Homo sapiens: one gene and its partners. The protein of the gene in region 4 interacts with the protein of the main gene of each other region in a pairwise test. Each region holds a gene or a part of one and is shown on either strand. Other genes may lie near its edges.

Region 1 (3,500 bases), on a different chromosome or scaffold from region 4:
TCAAAGTGATACCAGTATATCACTTAGAATTTGTAACATGTAAACATACTGTTTTCAAGCAGTATAGGAGTTCATATCATGAAAAGCAAATCTGCTATTCACCTCAGACCCTCAGTTGTCTCACCAGATAGAAGTAACTATTACCAACTTTCTTGGGAATACTTCCAGAAAATTTCCACAAATCGGCACATTTGCATGTATATGTGTTCTCAGGCGAGACCCATCGCCCCCCACCTGCCTTTGTTCACTTACTCGCTGTGGGTGATTGTTCCATATCCACCATTCAGATTTATGTCTTCGTTTTTAAATAGCTGTGTAGTTTTCATTGTTATGACTGGACCACAGTCTATTTAAATAATCTGTCCTCTAAAACATTTAGATGGTTTTCTGTGTTTTGTTGTCCTAAAAACTGCCGTGATGGACAACAAACAAGAGTTTTTGGGAATTGTGATTTTATAAGACCAAGTTAACTAGACAGCCAGGAAGCAAAATTTGAAAACAATTTATTTAAAAATACTGGCTACGTAAGGTGGCTCATGCCTGTAATCCCAACACTTTGGGAGGCTGAGACAGGAGGATCACTTGAGCCCAGGAATTTAAGACCAGCCTGGGCAACATAGTGAGACCTCATCTCTACAAAAAAGAAAATACTGTTAGTTGAACAGTATTAAGGGGTTGGGAGGAAATCATCCATAATCTTACCTCCCCAACACAGTTATTTTTATTTTTGCATATTATTTTTTTTTTTTTGAGATGGTGTCACATTATGTTACCCAGACTGATCTTGAACTCCTGGGCTCAAGTTATCTTCCTGCCTCAGCCTCTGGAGTGCACACCACCAAGCCCAGCAATTTTTGCATATTACATTCAAGCCCATGTCCGCAAACATTTTTACATAGTGGCCATCTTAATGTAATTCTTTTTAGAGCTGTAACAACTCTTTCTCTCTGAATTGAAACAGAATGAAACACCAAGACACCACATTAACCCCCTCTAATTTCTTCCTCCTTCTTTCCCCACACTTGCACCCACTCAGCTACCAAGAACTTCCACTAAAGGAAAGCTGTTGGTGTGGGAATTTGACACAAACATCTTCCCATGTGTTTCTGTATTTGTAAATTCTATTCACTCCTAAACGGCTTTAAAGCAAGCCTTCAGTTTATTTTTATACCTGCCTCCACTTCACTGTGGGCACTTGTTTTTGAGCCTGCAACCTGTTGTAATTTAACAGACAACCAAAAGGCCTTGTAAGAAGGTTGTTCTGGAACAGCTTTTCTGGAGGAGGTCTGTCTACAGAGGGACTTGCAGAGGGGGGATTGTCAAGAAAGAAGCCTCCTTCTCTAACAAGGGGCAGTCTGAGAGAGATGACTTTTGTTTCGCGCCACCCAAATTCCATTTCTTTATCCTTTAGTTGTTAGGACCAGGTGTCATCAGGTACAGGCCTGCCAGAGAAGATCCTACCCAGCCTGCCTCCTCAACCACTTCTACCCATTCTGAAGGCACCAGGATTTCTTCAGTCCAACTTTGGGCAGGTCTCCCTGATGCAAAATTGGTTCACTAAAATTTTGTGAATTGCATTAAATTTGTAGCAGGGTTAGGGCTCTTACTTCTGTAGGGAAGATCTTGATTTAGTGAGAACGAAAACCTAGACTAAGGCTTAGCACTCCTGGATTCTCCTCTGACGGGTTTCTTTGTTAATTTGCCACACAATGCATATCAGGCTATTTCACCACTTCAAGCCTGTTTACATAACTATAAATGAAAAGGGTGTTTTCTTTCTTTCTTTATTTTTGAGACAGGGTCTCATTCTATCACCCAGGTTAAGTGCAGTGGCATGATGATGGCTCACTGCAGCCTCGACTTCCCAGCCTCTAGCCATCCCTCCTACCTCAGCCCCCTGAGTAGCTGGGACCACAGGTGTGCACCACTATGCCTGGCTAATTTTTTTGTAATTTTTTGTAGAGACAAGGGTCTCTCTATGTTGCCCAGGTTGTTCTCCAACTCCTGGACTCAAAGGATCCTCCCACCTCAGCCTCCCAAAATGCCAGGATTACAGGCATGAGCCACTGTTCCTGACCGAAAAGGGTGTTTTAAACTGATTTTTTTTTTCCCAGAGACAGGGTCTCACTCTGTCACCCAGGCTGGAGTGCAGTGGCACGATCATAGTCCACTGTAACCTTGAACTCCTGGGCTCAAACAGTCCTTCTGCCTCAGCCTTTCGTGTAGCTAGGATTACAGGCATGTACCACCACACTCAGCTAATTAAAAAAAAAATGTTTTTGTACAGACAAAGTCTTACTATGTTGCCCAAGCTGGTCTCAAACTCCTGGCCTCAAGCGATCCTCTCAGTTCAGCCTCCAAAAGCTCTGGGGTTATAGGCGTGAGCCACTGCACCTGGCCTTAAACTGACCTTTAACATCTCTTGCAATTCTAACGATTTGGTTTCACAAAGTCGAAAAATATTTTTGTGGATTTCCATTTTTTGAGGGCTTTCCATTCTGTGACCAGTGTCCTAATTTGGCCCACTCTTCTGCTTATCACTCCTCCTTTCAAGCAGTAGGGCTTGGTTTACCAGCCCCTTGGGCCAAGCTCTTCCCTAGGTTCTACCGCCCATAGCTAGCCCTCTGTTTACAGTCCCTCTTATACCTGCAGCTCAGCTTTTACCAAAACCTGGATTCTTCTCAGGCGCTTCAGCTTTTCTCCAAATGTCTGGTCTTCTGCCCACCGTTTTCCCAAGGTTTTTCCAGCATATTCTGAGTGTCTGGCTCACAGAACTTGGATGGTCCATCATTCATCACTGGCCAGGCCTTCAGGTTGAGGGAAATAGCCTCCAAAAAGCCCCATTGCATCCAGAGCCTGTGTCCCAAATTAGCACCTCTCTGGATAGCCAGGGAAGAGGGAAAACATTCTGACATAAGTATGGATTTGCTAGACTAGCTGCATTTACAGAGCATCTTTCTAGATGGAACATTTCTATTAGATGCTATGGAACATTACAAAGGAAATAGAAGGCACCGTAAAGCCTAAAAGAGAGAGAGCTCATGGCATATATTCCACACAACAGCCTTGAACATAGCCTAGAATTAAATTCCATTTATTTGTTCCATTCCATCTTATCCTTCACAGTGGAGAAAGAACAGTCATTTCGTACCCTGTGGTTCTGTGTGGTCATTTCTTTTTAAGGTCTAGATTAGGATTGTTAACAGTCCTCTGTGTTTGTGCAGTGCCTTATAATTTATAGAATACATTCACAAACATGATTCCATTTGAGTTAGATCGAATGGATGTTATCTCCGTTTTACAGAAGAGAACATAGGAAACAGGTCACAGTCACACAAACAAAGGGACAGACTAAGGACATAAATCTAGGTGTTCTGTTATGTTTCCTAGAGTGATGGAATTTCCTCTACACATCACATCATTGGCACGTGAAATTTTACTTTATGGGGCTGGCTTCCTTGCATAAATGTAAGATTTAAGGAAAGAACAGGACATTTATG
Region 2 (3,500 bases), on a different chromosome or scaffold from region 4:
CCCGGGAGGCAGAGGTTACAGTGAGCCGAGATAGTACCACTGCACTCCAGCCTGGGCAACAGAGCAAGACCACCTCAAAAAAAAAAAAAAAAAAAAAAAAAGCTGACATGGTAGGTATCTATGGAATGGGTCACAAATTTGAGTATGCATTATAATCACCTGGAGATCATCCTAGGCCTACCGAATCAGAAACTCTAGGTGCCCAGGCATCTGTAATCTTTGAAGCTCTCCAGAAGATTCTGTCACCTCTTGCAGACCGAGGACCACTGAGCTACCATCATCTCTTTGTTCCTTTGTTTTCTCTTACACAAAACTTTATTGCTCAATGAAAAAAGGCTTAAGCAATACCCCCTTCCTTCCTTATTGGATCTGGTTTTCAGTACAGATTATATGCATGCCTGAAAAGAAAATTAGAAAGCAGAAGCAGATTTTTGGTAGTTGGTTGTCAATTTTCTTTTGAATTCTTCACCTCCATGCAAATTGAAGCAGGACTTATTTTTAGCAACTTGATGAATGCAATTTACCAAAGTTTATTACATTATCTTTTATTACAATAAGACAGGAAGGTCAGTGGAATTGTCTGATTTTTCTTTCTCATTTACCATAGTTCTCTTTCTAGGAACTCATAGTACAGAATCAAGCTATGGGATATATAGGTTATTTTGATTCTCTATTTGTGCCCACTTCTATATTTTTGTATAACTTCAGTAGTGTATACACTTTTAACCTTTTTGGAGACATTCTTAGGAATAGCAGTCTCTTCGTTGACTTTCTGTTGTAGTTTTCCTAATGTTTGCTCCCTGGTGACCAGGAGACCTTCTATGTCAGTGGAGACAACTCATCCAAGGCTGGCTGAGCCAAGAGAGGTGGGCAGGAAGGCCAGGTGAAGGCCCCCTTCCCTCCTTTACCACACCTCAATAGAGAATCTTTATGTCTCCTGTACCCTTTCTTTTTCTCTTATTAGCACATTATGGACTTGCGCCTTCACATGAGCTTGGGCCCTTACCTGATTTATAATTTGCTATCTATGACTTTATGGTTGTTCAATCTTGAGAAGGAATGACTGTCCCTGGACATCTTCCAAAACCATTTTCTATATGATTGAATTGTACTTGACTCTTCTTATTGTGATGAGATGATTTCCCCCAATAGCTTTTTAATGGCTGTAGGAGAGCAATACAGAGCACAGGACCTGTCTAGGATAAGCAGGATACATACAAATGATCCCTAGTGTCCCAGGGCGTGGTACAGTCCCTTATCTACCCATTTCCTTCCATTGAAGTGCCTTGTAAGGCTTGGCCAACATGTAAGGAAGGAAGGCATCTCTCACCTATTCTTGCCTTGTTCATCAAAATGCATCCATTCCATCTCATCCACTTGTTGCATGGTAGACTATATTGGGTACTAACTTAAGCAGATGGGTACAGCTCAACTCTACGCAAACTAGCTAATGTGCTTTCCCCAGGTAGCATAAAATGTTAACTTGATTGCCATGCATAGACTTTTAAAAGTTGCTAAGGAGTTAGTCCTTTAAACGAATAGTATTTATTGTTTTATGGGGGTTTTTAAATTATGAAATGTGTGTGGACATTATAAAAATTTTGGAAAATACAGAAAAGCAAAAGGAAGCAATTTAAACCATGTATAATTCCACAACTCAAAGAAAACTATAATTAACACTTTGATGTGTATTACTCAAGTTTCTGTTTCAGAATGCTGCACATTCTCTTTCTCCATAACTACTTTTTATGCCTAACAGAGTATATATGCTTTTCATGCCATTAGATAGCCTTCTAAACTCTGTGACTTATGTAGAAGCCAGGACCTCATTATTGTGCATTTAACTTATTTCTGAATTTCTGCAAAAACAAGGTGGTGATGAAAATATTTTGAGCAATGAGTTTCATACACTTTTGCATTATATCTTTAGAATAAATGCACATATGTCAAAACAAATGCACACTTGAAAAGCTTTTGATACATATTACTAAACTGACTTCCAGAAAGATTCTATCAATTACCAATTTTTTAAAATAATGAATAGACTTTGTTTGCAAAATCATTAAGTTGCAAAAACAAAGACACCACAGGAGTTTTAAATTAGACTTTTTTTTAATCTAGAAAAAAAATTTAATGTACTTGCTTAGTTCAGCAGAAGCTGAGAGAGGTCTCAAGACCCTGAACAATAATACTGATTTTATTATTTTATCTTATTTTATGTTTTTAAGTTCCGGGGTACACGTGCAAGATGCGCAGGTTTGTTACAGAGGTAAACATGTGCCATGGTGGTTTGCTGCACAGATCATCCCATCACCTAGGTTTTAAGCTCAGCATGCATCAGCTCTTTTCCCTAATGCTCTCCCCTCCCCCGCACTTCCCCGACAGGCCCCACTGTGCATTATTCCCCTCCCTGTGTCCAGGTGTTCTCATTGTTCACCTCCCACTTATAAGTGAGAACATGCAGTGTTTGGTTTTCTGTTCCTGCATTAGTTTGCTGAGGATAATGGCTTCCAGCTTCATCCATGTCCCTGCAAAGAACATGATCTCATTCCTCTTTATGGCTGTATAGTACAGTCTAACATTGATGGGCATTTGGGTTGGTTCCGTGTCTTTGCTATTGTGAATAGGGCTGCAGTGAACATTGACATGCATGTGTCTTTATAATAGAATGATTTATATTCCTTTGGGTATATACCCAGTAATGGGATCGCTGGCTCAAATGGTGTTTCCAGTTCTAAATCTTTGAGGAATTGCCACACTGTCTTCCACAATGGTTGAACTAATTCACATTCCCACCAACAGTGTAAAAGCATTCCTATTTCTTCACAACCACCATCAGCATCTGTTGTTTCTTGACATTTTAATAGTCACCATTCTGACTGGCATGAGATGGAATTACCAGTATGTTTTGAGAGTTCCCAGAATCCTTACCCATTTGAAAAAGTATTGTTTTTAAAAAATTCCTGCTAACTTTATGGGCAAGAAAATTCTCAGCAGTTTAATTTGCATTTCCTTGTTTAATACAGAAGTCTTTTGTGACTATATTTTTATACTTTTGCTAAAGATTATTTAGTGCATTGGTTAAGTGGTGCTATTCTAACGCCTGAGTGTTCACTTACTGATGACCTTGAGTAAATTCCTTGATCTCCCTATGCTCACACCAACTCTGATAATGGCAGTACCTACTCATAGAATCTGTATGAAGACTAAAGAGGGTATCACATGAAAGATGCCTAGAAAATATCAGGCATATATAACATACGTTTATGTTCTCTGTCATTTACATCTTCTCTGAATTGCTTCACTGTCTTTGGGTAAGTAGATTTTTTGGTAGCTTAGAAATATATATATTAAGTATCTTAACCTCTTGTCTGTCATATATTATAATTTCTCCCCAGTTGGTGGTTTGTCTTTCAATTTTGTTCAAAGTGAGGAAACAGTTGAATATCAAGAAATTCAGACCAGGTGAAGGCATAGTTTTGGTCCAGGGTGGATCTTTT
Region 3 (3,500 bases), on a different chromosome or scaffold from region 4:
GAGACCATCACCTTCCCGCTTCCCCCAGCCTCAGGGCTGCTTCCTGCGGTGACACCAACCCCCATTATTATCTTGTGCAATCCTCCCTGTAGCCTTGGAGGTGGACCCATTACTGTCCCATTTTACAGGGACAGAAACTGAGGCTCCTAGGGCTGAAGATACCAGTCCAAGACATAGCTACAGGTAGGCCACATGAGGATTTGAACCCAGGCCTGTTTGACTGCAGAGACCAAGTTTTATGTTATTTCTGGTTATTTTCTTAGGATACTTTCCTAAAGGTAGAATTGCTGGGTCAGGCTCTTTAAAAAGATTTGAGGTACATATATCTATCTGTGCCTGAGAAAGGTTATCCAGTGTATCCTCCTCTGAACAGTGTACAAGAGCATCTATTTCTCCCCACCATCACCAGCCAATCTTTTCATATTTGAGAATCTGGTAGGCCAGAAAGAATATCTGCTTTTCATTTGTTTCTTTATTAGTCACATGGAACAACATTTGATATGTTTACCAGCCATTTGCATTTCTTCTTTTGTGAATTAACTGTATTATCAATATTATTTTTACAGACAAGGACTTGCTCTGTTGCCCAGGCTGGAGTGCAGTGGTGCAATCATAGCTCACTGCAGCCTTGAACTCCTGGGATCAAGTGATCCTCCTGCCTCGGCCTCCCAAAGTGTTGGGATTACAGGTGTGAGCCACCATGTCTGGCTGTACTGTATTACTTTTTATTCATTTTTTCCTTGTCCATTGTAAGAGATCTGGGCCAGGCACAGTGGCTCACGCCTGTAATCCCAGCACTTTGGGAGGCCGAGGAGGGCGGATCACGAGGTCAGGAGACCGAGACCATCCTGGCTAACACAGTGAAACCCTGTCTCTACTAGAAATACAAAAGAATTAGCCGAGTGTGGTGGCGGGCACCTGTAGTCCCTGCTACTTGGGAGGCTGAGGCAGGAGAATGGCATGAACCTGGGAGGTGGAGCTTGCAGTGAGCTGAGGTCGCGCCACTGCACTCCAGCCTGGGCGACAGAGCGAGACTTCATCTCAAACAAAAAAAAAGAAAAAAAGAAAAAAAACAAGAGATCTGAATTTTTTTTTGTATATGTGAGTTTTAAAAATAAAATTTATTTATATTACAAATACTTTCTCTGATTTGTCTTTAAGCTTTTGTTTTTGATTGTGGTGATGTTTTTTGATATTAAAGGGACGAGTCTAAAAACCATTCAGAGAAAATGCTCATATTATAATACTAATTGAAAACAAAAACAAAAGCGACTCAGTGTACAAAATGATAACTGTTAGGATATTGGTCACACAACTGAAAACAAGAATAGAAATCACAACCGGCTCTAATACCAGAATCGGCCAGCAGAGGGCGCTCTGAAGGCACCGCTGCGTTCACGCTGTTACTGGTTAGCAGGAGTATTTCCCAGTCCTCCAAGGGGAGGCTCAGCCTTCCTCTTCTCCAATTCACATCCCATCAATTGCCCCATCCCACCCCTGCCACCTCCCAGATGCCCCTCTGGCTCGTCTCTGTCATTGCACACCACGGCCTTCCACGGAAAAGCCAGCCACCATCCTGGGCCTCTGTAACATTCCTGCCCACTTTGGTATTGTGAGCTCCCCCATCCCACCTCACCAGACGGGCCCACCACACCTTGTGCCCCTGCTGTAGACCTTTCCTTAGTCCATCCTTCTGCCCTGGCCTGCACCACGCAATCGATGCCCCAGGCACAGTGAGTGACTCCTGTTTCCTGTTCATTTACATATGAGGTTCCCTCTGCCATCCAGCACCCACCTCCGGCCTGGCTAACTCCAGTCCCCCTTCAGGTCATAGCTGAGGCAGCACCGCTCCTGTGAAGTCATTTTAGACCCCTCTCGGGTTCCTCCTCTGGGGTCTCAGGCCTATTTATGCCCTCATCAATGCACCCATCCTACTGCCTGGCTATGCACCCGTCCCTGTCTGTGAGGACAGGAACTGGGTCCCATTCATTCTTGTATCCCCAGGTCTGGGCTCAGTGCCCAGCACATAGTAGGTACTCAGTAAATGTATCTGGAGTGTGGGCATGAAATGGGTGGCTGGGCAAGAGAACAGGGCTTTTTGGTCCCTCTGGTTCCCAGGGACCCACTGGGGACAGGGTCTTTACAGGTTTTGCCGGTGATCATGTGGGGCACCTCAGCCTTCCTCAGTCTCCAGGAGCCCCAGGATGAAAGCCAGCTCTGCTTTCCTCCAGGGTCACCTTCCCCATCCCCCACAGGCCCAGGTGCTTGCGGGGCCCAGGCAGCAGGGCTTCATCCCTACCTTCTGTGGTTCATGAGCAGCTCCCGGTGGAGCTCCTGGTGACTCCGAGAGGCCTTCACGGGGTTCAGCAGCTTCTTGGGCTTGATGAGCTCCGGATTCCACTCTCTGTATTCTGGCCGGGCCATCAGGCCCCCAATGTCTGCCCGCTCCCTCTGGATCTCCGAGTACATGGCGGCTGTAGAGATGGGCAGAGGAGTAGCTCAGAGCTGAGCCTATAATCTCACCCTGCCCCATGGGACACAGTTGAAGGGCAAGGTTTTCATGTCAGATGGACCTTGGCCACCTGCTACTGCGCATACCTGGGCAAGCTACCTGACTTTCTGAGCCTTAGTTTCTTCACTTATAAAATGGAAATCATAACGGAACGCATGCACAGGGCTGTCAGAATTGGAGATGATGTTTGCGATGTGTCTGGAGTATAGAAGTAAAATGATAACGGGTCACAAAATACGGGTTGACACATGCATATTTTTGGCCTGGCTTTGCAACAGTTTTCGCCCACTATAAAAGGAATTATGTTTGAGTTTCTGTTTTTCAATGAGCTTGTAACAGAAAAGGAAAATATATTTAAAAAGAGTAACATGTACTTGTTAAAAACAATTTGGATAAATGCAGTGATAAAAAGAAAGTATTACCCTTATTGTCTAACTCTATCCACAGTTCCACAACTGTTCAGCTTTTCATTTTCTTCACATCAAAGAGGAGAGCATGAAATTCAGAGACTGCTGTGTCCCTAATAGCAAAGGGATAGTTGTCAAATGTTTGGCTACTCAATGGCCCCACTTCTACCACAGCGGTTTGAAATCTGTCAGTTTACTTAAAATTCAGACACAAGGGCTCCCTCTTCTACAAACTGGCTCCTTATCCTTGAAATGCCCAAAAGCAAATACAGCAGAGAGAGAGAGAGAGAGAGAGAGAGAGAGAGAGAGAGAGAGAGAGAGAGAGAAAGAGACTGACTTAAAAAAAAAAAGGCCTCAAAGGTATAGACACTGCCTGGCCATTAGCTGCTTATAGGAATTTCAGTGAAAATTTAGACTTTAGCTCTGCTCTCTTCATGAGTCTAGCTTTGCAGAGGTTGAGCTCCTATTATATGCCAGGCCCTGACAGTTGGCAGTGTCTGGTCTGGTATGCAGTAGGCGATCAATACACATTTGTTGGTAATTGCCAATGCAACTTTTGAAGTTTTCTTTGGTCTTGGGGA
Region 4 (3,500 bases):
GAATCGCCTGATCCCAGGAGGTGGAGGTTGCAGTGAGCCGAGATTTCACCACTGCACTCCAGCCTGGGTGACGGAGTGAGACTCTGTCTCAAAAAAAAAAAAAAATAATAATAATGCTGGGCACGGTGGCTCACGCCTGTAATCCCAGCACTTTGGGAGGCCGAGGCACAGATCACGAGGTCAGGAGATCGAGACCATCCTGGCTAACACGGTGAAAACCCGTCTCTACTAAAAATACAAAAAATTAGCCGGCGTGGTGGCGGGTGCCTGTAGTCCCAGCTACTCCGGAGGCTGAGGCAGGAGAATGGCGTGAACCCGGGAGGCGGAGCTTGCAGTGAGCCGAGATCCCGCCATTGCACTCCAGCCTGGGCGACAGAAGAAAACTCTTTCTCAAAAAAAAAAAAAAAAGAAAGAAAGAAAGAAAGAAAAAGAAAGAAAACTGAGGGTGGTGGGAGTAGGCCCTGGAGTGGCAGCATGACTGGCCTGTTCAAGAAACCCGAAGGAGGCCAGTGTGGCTGGAACACAGGGGGCAACAGGGAGAGTGTGGGGAGCCAGAACAGAACAGAGGGAGAACAAATGCAGATCGCGTAGGGCCTCGTGGGCTGCAAGGAGACGCTTGGGCTTTGCTTGGATTAAGGTGAGAGCCCTGGAGGGTTTTGAGCAGAGGAGGGGCATGCTCGACGCAGGTGTTCACAGGCGCCCTCTGGTGGCGGAGGTGAGGGTGGACTCCTGGAGAGCCAGGAGGCGACTTCATTGGTCCAGACATGCACGATGGTGGAGGTTGTAGAAGTGGAGAGATGCGGACGGATTCTGGGTGATGTGGCAGATGGAACTGACGTGTGAGCGTGAAGGCTAGAGAGAAGTCAAGGACAACTTCAGGCTTTGGGACCTGCTGGACTAGAAGGGAGAGATGGAGGAGCTACAGGGTAGGCAGGTTTGGCTGGGGGTGACCAGATCTCTTTAGCCCTTGATAAGCTCAAGTGTCCATGAGACATCCACGTGGGGTCCTCAAGGGAGCAGCTATATGTCTGAGTCCAGGGCTCAGAGGAGACAGCAGGGCAGAAGGGAGAAACTTGAGCATCCTTAGCACACAGGTGGCATTTAAAGCCATGTGGCTGCTGGGTGCATTGTCTCATGCCTGTAATCCCAGCACTTTGGGAGGCTGAGTCAGGAAGATCACTTGAGGTCAGGAGTTCAAGACCAGCCTGGTCAACATGGTGAAACCCCATCTCTACTGAAAATACAAATATTTGTCAGGCATGGTGGCAGATGCCTGTAATCCCAGCTACTCGGGAGGCTGAAGCAGGAGAATCACTTGAATCCGGGAGGCAGAGGTTGCAGTGAGCTGAGACTGTGCCACTGCACTCCAGCCTAGGTAACAGAGCAAGACTCCATCTCAAAAATAAAAATAAAAAAGCCATGTGGCTGAATGAGATATTGAGAGGGAAGCCCTCATCTTAGGCTGGTAGAAAAACTTTGGAGCCCAGTCCAGGGATTCATTTTTCCCCAGAGTGGGGCCCATTTTTCTGCTGGGAAAAATAAAATCCTCAGCAGCTGAGAAACATTCCCAAGGTCAGATAGTGAGATTTTTGGCAGGCTAAGTATCCAAGCCTCTTGCCTTCCAGCTAGGGTTCTTGCCACTTCCCCAAGAACAGGCCTTGGGGAGAGAGGGCTGGTGGTTGGTTTGAGCCCCTAGGCCTGACGTCCCCCTCATCTTTCCCAGGTTCAAGAGCTGCAGGATTCCCTCTTGAGGCTGGAGCCCTGCCCACATCTTTCCCACAACCAAGCAGGTGGCTCAGGCAGTGGTTCTAGCAGCTCTGAGGCAGACAGGGAACCCTGGGAGACTCAGGTGAGTGCGAGAAGTTCAATCCCATGGTCTTGATGTCCTTAGCCTTCAGGGGAATGAGACTCAAATCTTTGTCATGGGATCCAACAGCTTTGGGGTTGCAAAATGCCTACAATCCCAGGCTCTTGGTGACAATTGGGGTCAGTTATATCACTTCTTCTTGGCAGGACTCCTTCTCCCTGGCTCACCCCCTGCTTCGGCGCCTCCGCAGCCATTCCAGCACCCAGATCCTTGGGTCTCTTCCCAACCAGCCCCTCAGTCCTGAGATGCACATCATGGAAGCCCAGATGGAGCAACTCCGGGGGTAAGAGACTCAAATGCTGAGCTCATAAGGGCACAGGCACCTCCTCCAACTGAGTTATAAAGCCAGGAGTCTGAAGCTGCAACAGGAGGGAGGGAAAGGGTGGAAATTGAGGCCTGACTGCCTTAGAAGGCCTCTGACTTTCCCTCTTCCCCACCTTCGGGAACAGGAGCATTGAGAAGCTCAAATGCTTTAATCGTCTGCTATCAGCTGTGCTACAGGGATACAAGGGCCGCTGTGAAGGCCTCAGCATGCAGCTAGGCCAGCGGGAGGCTGAGGCCACAGCATTGCATCTGGCCTTGCAGTACAGGTCAGTGCACCCTGCCAGTGATGTCACCAGCTGGGGAGGGAGTGGGCTTTCTGAGGATGGCCCCAATCCACAGAACCCTCACTGGAGAGCACCTTCCCCACTTCAGAAATTAATTTTTTTTTTTGAGACAGAATCTCGCTGTGTTGCCCAGGCTGGAGTGCAGTGGTGAGATCTCAGCTCACTGCAACCTCTGCCTCCTGGGTTCAAATGATACTCATGTCTCAGCCTCCTGAGTAGCTGGGATTACAGGTGTATGCCACCATAGCCAGCTAATTTTTGTATTTTTAGTAGAGATGGGTTTCACCATGTTGGCCAGGCTAGTCTCGAACTCCTGACCTCATGATCCCCCCTACTGGGCCTCCTAAAGTGCTGGGATTACAGGTGTGAGCCACCTTGCCTGGCCCAGAAATTAACTTAAGGCAATTTTAGTTCAGGGTTGCTAAGGGAGTCTGCATGCTTCCAGAGCTGAGGGCAGTGGGGAGAAGAGGGGTTCAGGAGCAAGTGGGGACTGGCACCTATAGAGCAAGATGTAGCTAAGTGGATTTTTTTTTCTTTTTTCTTTCTTTTTTTTTTTTTTTTTGAGACAGAGTCTTGCTCTGTCACCCAGGCTGGAGTGCAGTGGTGCCATCTTGGCTCACTGCAACCTCCGCCTCCCCAGTTCAAGTGATTCTCCTGCCTCAGCCTCCTGAGTAGCTGGAACTACAGGTGCGTACCACCACACCTTGCTAATCTTTGTCTTTTTAGTAGAGACGGGGTTTCACCATGTTGGTCAGGCTGGTCTCGAACTCCTGACCTCAGGTAATCCTCCCGCCTCAGCCTCCCAAAGTGCTGGGACTACAGGTGAGGGCCATTGCACCCAGCCGAGCTGAGTGTCCTGAAGCACTCAGAACCAGTGTCCCACAGTGAACACTGTGAAGAGGCATACAGGGTTCTGCTTGCTCTGCGGGAGGCCGACTCAGGAGCAGGAGACGAAGCCCCCATGAGTGACCTGCAAGCAGCTGAAAAGGAAGCATGGAGGCTGCTGGCACAAGAGGAGGCTGCCA

The links. The genes of interacting proteins can lie anywhere in the genome.
Region 1: the proteins of USHBP1 (region 4) and TRIM54 interact in binary tests that used the Homo sapiens proteins (3 or more experiments, as listed by UniProt).
Region 2: the proteins of USHBP1 (region 4) and STX11 interact in binary tests that used the Homo sapiens proteins (3 or more experiments, as listed by UniProt).
Region 3: the proteins of USHBP1 (region 4) and FAM107A interact in binary tests that used the Homo sapiens proteins (3 or more experiments, as listed by UniProt).

What each region holds. Positions count from the first base shown.
Region 1 is NC_000002.12:27,285,429-27,288,928, forward strand, and holds part of TRIM54 (tripartite motif-containing protein 54), read left to right. Parts: intron 1-3,500. UniProt on the Homo sapiens protein: May bind and stabilize microtubules during myotubes formation.
Region 2 is NC_000006.12:144,181,517-144,185,016, forward strand, and holds part of STX11 (syntaxin-11), read left to right. Parts: intron 1-3,500. UniProt on the Homo sapiens protein: SNARE that acts to regulate protein transport between late endosomes and the trans-Golgi network.
Region 3 is NC_000003.12:58,567,392-58,570,891, forward strand, and holds part of FAM107A (actin-associated protein FAM107A), read right to left. Parts: exon of another isoform or gene 2,935-3,500; intron 2,475-2,934; coding exon of another isoform or gene 2,470-2,474; coding exon 2,300-2,469; intron 1-2,299. UniProt on the Homo sapiens protein: Stress-inducible actin-binding protein that plays a role in synaptic and cognitive functions by modulating actin filamentous (F-actin) dynamics. Mediates polymerization of globular actin to F-actin. Also binds to, stabilizes and bundles F-actin.
Region 4 is NC_000019.10:17,258,246-17,261,745, reverse strand, and holds part of USHBP1 (harmonin-binding protein USHBP1), read left to right. Parts: intron 1-1,723; coding exon 1,724-1,849; intron 1,850-2,013; coding exon 2,014-2,150; intron 2,151-2,316; coding exon 2,317-2,457; intron 2,458-3,044; coding exon of another isoform or gene 3,045-3,150; exon of another isoform or gene 3,151-3,162; intron 3,163-3,273; exon of another isoform or gene 3,274-3,360; coding exon 3,361-3,500.